Homo sapiens: one gene and its partner. The protein of the gene in region 1 purifies or fractionates together with the protein of each later gene. This does not show direct contact. Each region holds a gene or a part of one and is shown on either strand. Other genes may lie near its edges.

Region 1 (3,804 bases):
AACATTCAGGCTTTGTTTGGGTTTTGAAAAGAGGATACGATCAGTCAAGCTTCTCAGCAAGGTTCATGCTAATTTGGAGGGGAAGATCGTCTTGGCATAAAATCCTATTTGATTTTAAAGAGAGAATATTTGTGGAAAAGGTTGAAATAGTGAAAAAATATGTTTTTTTTGTTTTTGTTTTTTTGAGATGGAGTCTCGCTCTGTTGCTCAGGCTGGAGGCAGTGGCGTGATCTCGGCTCACTGCAGCCTCCGCTTCCTGGGTTCAAGCGATTCTCCTGCCTCAGCCTCCTGAGTAGCTGGGACTACAGGCGCCCGCCACCATGCTCGGCTAATTTTTGTATTTTTAGTAGACACGGGTTTCACCATGTTGTCCAGAATGGTCTACATCTCCTGACCTTGTGATCCACCCACCTCAGCCTCCCAAAGTGCTGGGATTACAGGCGTGAGCCACCGCACCCAGCAAAAAAATGTTTAAAAACATTTTTTTTGGTCTGCTCTTTCTGTATTTCTTGTGTTCCCATCCTGATCATTAAAGGAAAGGAATATATGAAGTATATGTGTAGGTTTCCAGAGTAGGTAGTGGGGGTGAATGGTAGAATTAGAGATTGGTGAAATGCCTTATCAGTTACAGTAATAGATAAAAATTGTTCTCTTTGAATAATAAGTTCAAATATGTCAGGTTAATTCAATCTAACAAATATGCTTTGAGTTCCTACTATGTACAAGTAGTGTTCTAGTTTTACATGGGTGATGTAAGGGCAAATAGTTCTAGTCATTAAAGAAGAGAAAATAAAACAGAAACACAGTGGTGAATTTACCATGAATCTAATGCAGCTTAAACTTCAAGTCCCTTCATTTACACAGGCCCCTTCTAAGTGAGTGGGAGGAGCCTTAACAGTAAGTTTAGATGTTCATTTGCAAAATTAAGATTTTAGCTGTAATTGGATAAGATTGCTATCACTTTTTTTTTTTTTTTTTTTGAGACAGGGTCTCGCTTTGTCACCCAGGCTGTAGTGCAGTGGTTTGATCGGCTCACTGCAGCTTTGACCTCCCAGATTCAAGCAATCCTCCCACCTCAGCCTCCCGAGTAGCTGGGACTACAGGCATGTGTCACCATGCCTGGGTAATTTTTTTTTTTTTTTTTTCCTGAGATGGAGTCTTGCTCTGTCACCAGGCTGGAGTGCAGCGGCGTGATCTTGGCTTACTGCAACCTCTGCCTCCCGGGTTCAAGCGATTCTCCTGCCTCAGCCTCCCGAGTAGCTGGGACTACAGGCACGTGCCATCACGCCCAGCTAATTTTTTGTATTTTTAGTAGAGACGGGGTTTCACCATATTAGCCAGGATGGTCTCGAACTCCTGACCTCATGATCCACCCACCTCGGCCTCCCAAAGTGCTGGGATTATAGATGTGAGCCACCACTACCACCTGGCCCATGCCTGGGTAATTTTTATATCGTTTTTTAGAGACAGAGATTTTGCCATGTTGCCTAGTTTTGTTTGGAACTTCTGGGCTCAAGTGATTTGCCCACGTTGGCCTACCAAAGTGCTGGAATTGCAGGCATGAGCCACCATGCCTGGCCTGCTGTCACTTTTATTTATTTGTTTATTTATTTTTTTTGAGACAGAGTCTTAGTCTGTTGCCCAGGCTGGAGTGCAGTGGCACGAGCTCGGGTCACTGCAACCTTCGCCTCCCAGGTTCAAGCAATTCTCGCACCTCAGCCTCCCAAATAGCTGGGATTACATGCACATGCCGCTGCGCCTGGCTAATTTTTGTATTTTTAGTAGAGACAGGGTTTTTCCATATTGATCATGCTGGTCTCAAACTCTGGGCCTCAAGTATCTGCCTGCCTTGGTCTCCCAAAGTGCTGGGATTACAGGCGTGAGCCACCAAGCCTGACCTACTGTCACTTTTGGTTCCAATTTACCATGCAATATATTTCTACGTGTGTTGGGTTATAAGAGAGGGGTCACAAGAGTTTTGGGGAGAAATTTTGGAATAATGTATTTGTGGTTTTGTATCTGTGTTTCTACTTTTGCAGAGGGAAACAGTAGAAAGAATTTAGTCATCTACAGATATTAGTCCTCAAGTAAGTTAGGACTCTTAGGAAACCATTGGCCTCACTAAGAGTTTTGACTAAACTTTAGAAGAAAAAAATCATTGAGCTACCAAGGACTATATGTTGATAAGAGATGATGAGTTGCACTCTGCTTGTTATATATGGAAGGTCAGATTCACTCTCCTGTATCATTGGTCCTATAAAATAACAGCAGTTCTCATCCTGCTTTCATAACAGTGTCATTAGAGCTGTATGTATTTCCCTTTTACTTCTTGTTGGCTAAGTAGAAAAAAGGAAAATAACTTCTTTCAGATATTTGTTTAAAACTATGAAGGAAATATTGAGTTACCAAATGTAGTGGGAATTTTTAGTCAAAAAAATTTTTTTTTAAGAGACAGGGTCTTTCTCTCTTGCTCAGGCTGGAGTGCAGTAGTATGATCATAGCTCGCTGCAGCCCCCGGCTCCTGGATTCAAGCAGTCTTCCTACCTCAGCCTCCCATGTAGCTGGGACCACAGGTGTGTGCTGCCACTTCTGGCTAATTTTTTATTTTTATTTTTTAGTGGAGAAAAATGTTGCCCAGACTGCTCTTGAACTCCTGACCTCAAATGATCCACCTGCCTCAGTCTCACAAAGTGCTGAAATTGCAGGTGCGAGCCACTGTGCCTGACCAAACTTTTTATTTTGGGATAATTTTAGATTTACAGAAAAGTTGAAAAGAGAATGCAGATAATTCTTATTTGCCCCTCACCCAGTTCCCCTAAATGTTAACATTTTATATTCTTGTGGTATATTTGTCAAAACTGAAAAAACAACATTGATGCATTGCTATTAACTAAACTCCAGACTTCATTTGGGTTTCCCCAGTTTTTCTATTAATGTCCTTTTTCTTTTTTTTTTTTTTTTTTTTTGAGACGGAGTTTCGCTCTTCTTGTCCAGGCTGGAGTGCAATGGCGCGATCTTGGCTCACCATAACCTCTACCTCCTGGGTTCAAGGGATTCTCCTGCCTCAGCCTCCCGAGTAGCTGGGATTTACAGGCACCTGCCACCACACCTGGGTAATTTTGTATTTTTAGTAGAGACGGAGTTTCTCCATGTTGGTCAGGCTGGTCTCAAACTCCTGACCTCAGGTGATCTGTCCGCCTCGGCCTCCCAAAGTGCTGGGATTACAGGCGTGAGCCACTGTGCTTGGCCTTAGTGTCCTTTTTCTATTGCAGAAATCCCATTCGAGATACCATATTGCATTTAGTCATCATATCTCCTTAGTTTCTTCTGGTCTGTGACAGTTTATCATGATCTTGACAGTCTTGGCAAGTACTGGTCAGCTATTTTGTAAAATGTCCCTCCATTTGGACTTGCCTGGTATTTTTATGGCTAGACTGGGTTATAGTTTTGGGGGAAGAATACCAGCGAGGTGAAGGGCTCCCCCTGATCACATCATGTTGGGGCACATGATAACCATGTGACATCACTGGCTACGATAACCTGGACACTTGATTAAGACAGTGTTGTCAGGTTTCTCCACTAAAAAGTTACTATTTTTACCTTTTTTTAATATGTTGTTCTTTAGAAAGGAGTCATTAATTCCAGCCTGCGTTCAAGGATAGGGCCAGGTAATTAAACCACCTCCTGGAGACGTGAATATCTTCTTAGAGTTATTTTGAATTCTGTGAAGAAGATTTGTGCCTTCTCCTCCATTTACTTATATATTCAATCATTTGTTTATATCAGTCTGGATTGACATGTATT
Region 2 (4,499 bases), on another chromosome or scaffold:
CAGACAAATGAAAGGGAGGAAAAGACAACCCCCAGTGGCGGTCCCCAGCTCCTCAGCCCCCTCCCAACCAGGCAGCTCAGGTCTGGTTCCTAAGGTGGCCCTGCTAACCGCAGGGTCAAGACCCCTGCCTTCAGCTCCGTAGCCAGGTCCCTATCACGACAGGAAGCAAGAAAGTTACCAACCCCAAAAATGCTGAATCACAAAGTGAGGCTGAGCAGGAAAGTGGGGGTGGGGAGGGAAGGAGACGGTGGCCAGGGAGGAAAGGTGCTAAGGGGCTTTCCACCTGGAGCACCCCGGGATGCTGCGGGCAAAGCACAGTCCCTGTAAGAGCCCCCAGGACAAATGCCAGGAGGAGGGACACCAGGATGCGGCTGGTTGGCGGGGTGGGAAGGTGGGCAGGTACCCCGGCTGCTGCTAATGCCGCAGGACGCGGTGCAGCAGTGGGGTCTTTGCATCCTGGGAGCAGCAGCAGGTAGGGAGGTGCGGAAGTGCTTTGTGCCAAGGCCTGGCAGGAGGGAGAAGCTTAAGATAGGAGTAGGGGCTCAGGGTCAGAAGTGGCGGTGTGTGTGCTGTAAACAGCCCGAGGAACTGGTGCAGGAAGCAGGGTCACAGTCTTGGGGAGCAGGGTAAGGTGGTGAGAGCGTGCCCGCGGGGAGAGGTCGGAGGGGCTGGGGGCAGAATGGGAGGGTGGGGAAAGGGACCGGAGCGACACAGGGACAGGCAGCGAGAACGACGGATGAGCCTTGAGAAGCGATCAGGAGGAGAGATGGGGAGGACCGGGAACAGCAGCGCCCCGGTGGGGCTGCGCAGAGGCCGGGAGAGGGGATGAGAGGAGGATGGAGGAAAGGGGAGGGCGAGGCTGCTAGGACCGGAGCGGGCAGAGATGGGGAAGAGGTGCACCGGGAAGAGGGACGGCGGCAGGGGCAGGGGTCAGGGATGCGAGCTGAAGGGTCGGGCGGGCGGGAGGACAGGGAAGGAAAGACAGAAAGGGATGGGGGAAGGGAGACGATGGAGAAGGAGGTGAGGAGGCTGGAGAGGAGGTGAGACAGCGGCGGAGGCAGGGACGCAGGGCCGGGGAAGAAGAGATGGAGACGGGACCGCGGCGCCTGCCGCAGCGCGGGCCTCGCGGATACCCGCCGCCGCCGTCCCGGAGCAGCTTGGTGGAAAGCGCGCCCCGCCGGGGTCTCCCCGGTACTCACCTGGGGGCTCCAGCTCCGGATCCTGTGCCCCGCGCCGGATCTTCCTTCCCGCCCTGCCCCTGCGACTTTAGCGCCCCCGAATCCCGCTAGCTCCTGCAGGTTCCGCCAGCAGCATCTTCACCTCGTGGGACGCCCGGGGCCACGCCTCTTCCAGCTTCTGATTGGCTATTGTTCACGCCAGTCACATTACCATTGGTTGAGGGGTCGTCGGACATGCAAATCAGGATGGGCCCGCCGCCGCACCGATTGGCTGGCGCTCGCAAAGCGCAGCCCTCGACTTGGGCTCTGATTGGCTCCGCGGCCCTGACGGCGACAGTGACGCGAGGCGGGTTCTTGGACTGAGTGTGCGGCGCGGTGCGCCGCCTTCCGAGGCTCCTCCCGCGGGTGGCAGCGGACGGGGCGCGCCCCTCGGCCAGTCCTCGGTCCTCAGGCTTGTGGCTCCGTTGAGCACCGGCCGCCGGGCCTCTGGGTCCGTCGAGTGGAGACTCTCTGAAAAGCGTGGGCTCCGTGGCCTCCGGCGCGGCCGCGGCGGGTCGGTCTCCTAGGTAACGCGGCCCGCGGCGGGCGGAACCATGTGGGCCGGCGCCGCGGGGGAGGTTGGACGCGGCCTCGAGGCACAGGGGGCCTCAGTGTTGGCCAGAGCCTCGGGGTTCGGGGGTAGGGTGGTCCACGCCGTCCCTGCGTGGGGGCCCGGTGCCTGGGGTGCGGCGGTGGCGCGCGGCGGGGGCTGTCCCCGCGTTAGTCGCAGGCGTCCCCCCTCGTCGGGACACTTGGGGTCGGGGCCGCTGGGTGCCGTTTGGCTACGTGGGTTCCTTTCTGCCCTTGCCCTTTGCCCCCTGCCCCCTGCCCCCTGCCCCCTGCCCCCTGGCCTCTCTGCAGCCCCTCGGCTGAAGGGAGCGCGGTACCGATGTTCTGGGCCTTGGCTCCCCGCGCCCTAGTCCGCGCGCATCCTTCCCAGGCCGGAGTCCGCGGACCCCGCCTGGCCGCGCCCCTCCGCCCCTCCTCCCCGCCCCCCGGCTCCAGCTCCGGCTCCGGCTGTCAGTTCCCCGCGGTGGCTCTGCGGCCTTCGGGCGTCCCTGCGAGGCTTTGTACCCGGCGCCGTCCCGGCCTTCTGCGCCCCTTTCCTGCCTTGGAACCTCCCGGCCGACCCGGCCCGGAAGGCGCCACCCGCTCCCGCGTGCCCTTCCCCACGCGTGCAGGCTGCTCCCGCCCGCCCCCGGGCTTGCAGGCACCTCGCTGCCCGAGATTCCTCGTGTCTAACTTCTTAGGAGACCGCTGCTTTCTGCCTCCGTGTGTCGCGATGTGTGGCTTTGGTGGACGTCTGTGAAGGAAATCCAGCCTCTCGCGTGTGTAGTTGGCAAAAGGAGGAGTATTTCTGTTGATGGTGGGCAGCGCCTCCCGGTCCTAACCCAGGGCTCCGTTCGTTGCACCTCCTCTGTGCAGTTTCCGTAGGTCACACTTGTGTCTTTTTGTATGCTAATTTGTGCCCCGTTTCTTTACATTCTATGGGGGTAGCGAGCTTGTCTGCTGTGTTCAAGACCGTTTCTCCCGGGCGCAGGGTAGGTGCTGAAAGAATGCTCATGAATGAGGGAATTCCAGGCAGTGCTTAATCAGACCTCTGCTTCCCCAAAAGCTCCCCAAGGCATCTGGGTCTCAGGCATTACACATTTTCCATTCCGGGAAGGAGGCTTCCCGGACCCTGACAGCGCCTCCCACCCCCTGCATCTTCCTTCAGCCCTGCTCACCTCTGCACCCTCCCGGGGGCCTGTTGCTGCTCACAGTCACTTTCTTGTCTTTCTCCCCCACTGGCTTTCTAGATGCTTGAAGACAGCACATTTGACAGCCTTCTTATGCACTGGAACACAAGTGCTCGGGAAATAGTTGCTGAATAGATCAGCAGAAGCAGAGATCTCAAGGAGATTTCACAGCTCTCATTTTGGAGGTTGGAAACAGGTGGGGAGGCTGCGAATCTGTCCTGAAGTTAAAGAGGAGACAGCATTAGCCCTGGGTTCCTTTGGTGCTCTTACTTTTTCCCTCTGGGCCTCTCTTCTCCCTTGGCCTCTCCTGGCCTCCTTGATTGAGGTAGTGGGAGGTAGTTATAATAGCTTACAGTATTATATCTATAATACTATTATAATAGCTAGTTATAATAGCTAGCTGTGTGACCTTGGATTGGCTGTTTATCCTTTCTGAGTCTCAGTGTTCTCATCTGTAAGATGGCGATAATGATGATTCTCATTTGGCAGAGTTGTTGGAATAGTAACCATAGAATGTGAGTTCCTGTCTTGCATCAGGGGCTCATTAAAAGTGGGTGTATTTTCTTCTTCTTCTTTTTTTTTTTCCCCTGGAGAGCCCACTGTACCCTTTTCTTGGGTTCAAGACCTGGAGCCTTCTCGATTTTCTCTTTTATTGTTGATTTGGCCCCAAAGGCCCCTCTGCACTTCCTCCAGGGCATTTGTATTTCATCCTTAAAAGACTTTTGCTGAAGACCCAGCCTGGTGTCATGGAGCTCACAGTCTCGCAGGACTACAGCACAGCCCTGGTGAAGCGTGGTGGCTCTTCTGTCACCTGCCCTGTGTGGGAGCAGCCGGAGGTGGGGGATGGGGCTCTCGCTCTGAGGAGGGAGCATTTGGTTTGACTCCTAGAGGCCAGAGCAGAGGTGGAAAGGAGCAAGGAGCAGGTGGAAGGGCACCCGGAGAGGTTTGTGAGGTGCTGGGATGGCAGTGAGAGCTGCTGCGGGCGCTTGGGCTCCCACCTGCAGAGTCTCAGGTGTCACCTCGGCCTCCGTGGCCCCTCAGACTAGGACTGCCCTGCCTCCACATCCCGAGCCTCAGGACTTCCGTGTGGGTGGCAGGTGCTTTCGGAATGGATGCCCTTCCGCCTAGTGTCTGCCCTCCTAGTACAGCAGGGGGCCGGCATGCTTCATGCTCCCTGTGAGGGTCGACTGGCGTATGCACGTCCTTCAGCAGTGTCCTTGGGCCAAGTGTGGCACTGAGTCCTGCAGACACCCAGGGAGAGGGCAGGAGGCACCGGGTCAGAAATCTGGGGCAGGTGAGGAGCATGGGCATCTGCGTCAGGAGAGACTTCCTCTCTGAAATCCCCACCTGGGGCCATCACGGCCTGCATTGTGTGTGAATACATTTCTGAATGTTATAAAACATCAGTGGGAAAGAAAAGCTTGAGGGTAGCTTTGCTAAAGCTTCTGTTTGGTTCCGTGACCATTTACTGAGTTGTGACGGTACCAAGAACACAGGAGGAATGAGGCTTCTTTCTTCAAGAACTTGGCCAGCGAGCAATTCA

Evidence for each region.
Region 2: the proteins of SPIRE1 (region 1) and NPHP4 purify together in Homo sapiens (co-immunoprecipitation; one study listed by IntAct). This does not show direct contact.

Annotation. Positions count from the first base shown.
Region 1 is NC_000018.10:12,648,053-12,651,856, reverse strand, and holds part of SPIRE1 (protein spire homolog 1), read left to right. Parts: intron 1-3,804.
Region 2 is NC_000001.11:5,989,489-5,993,987, reverse strand, and holds the start of NPHP4 (nephrocystin-4), read left to right. Parts: upstream 1-1,562; 5' UTR 1,563-1,744; intron 1,745-2,063; exon of another isoform or gene 2,064-2,647; intron 2,648-3,016; exon of another isoform or gene 3,017-3,152; intron 3,153-3,160; exon of another isoform or gene 3,161-4,499. UniProt on the Homo sapiens protein: Involved in the organization of apical junctions; the function is proposed to implicate a NPHP1-4-8 module. Does not seem to be strictly required for ciliogenesis. Required for building functional cilia.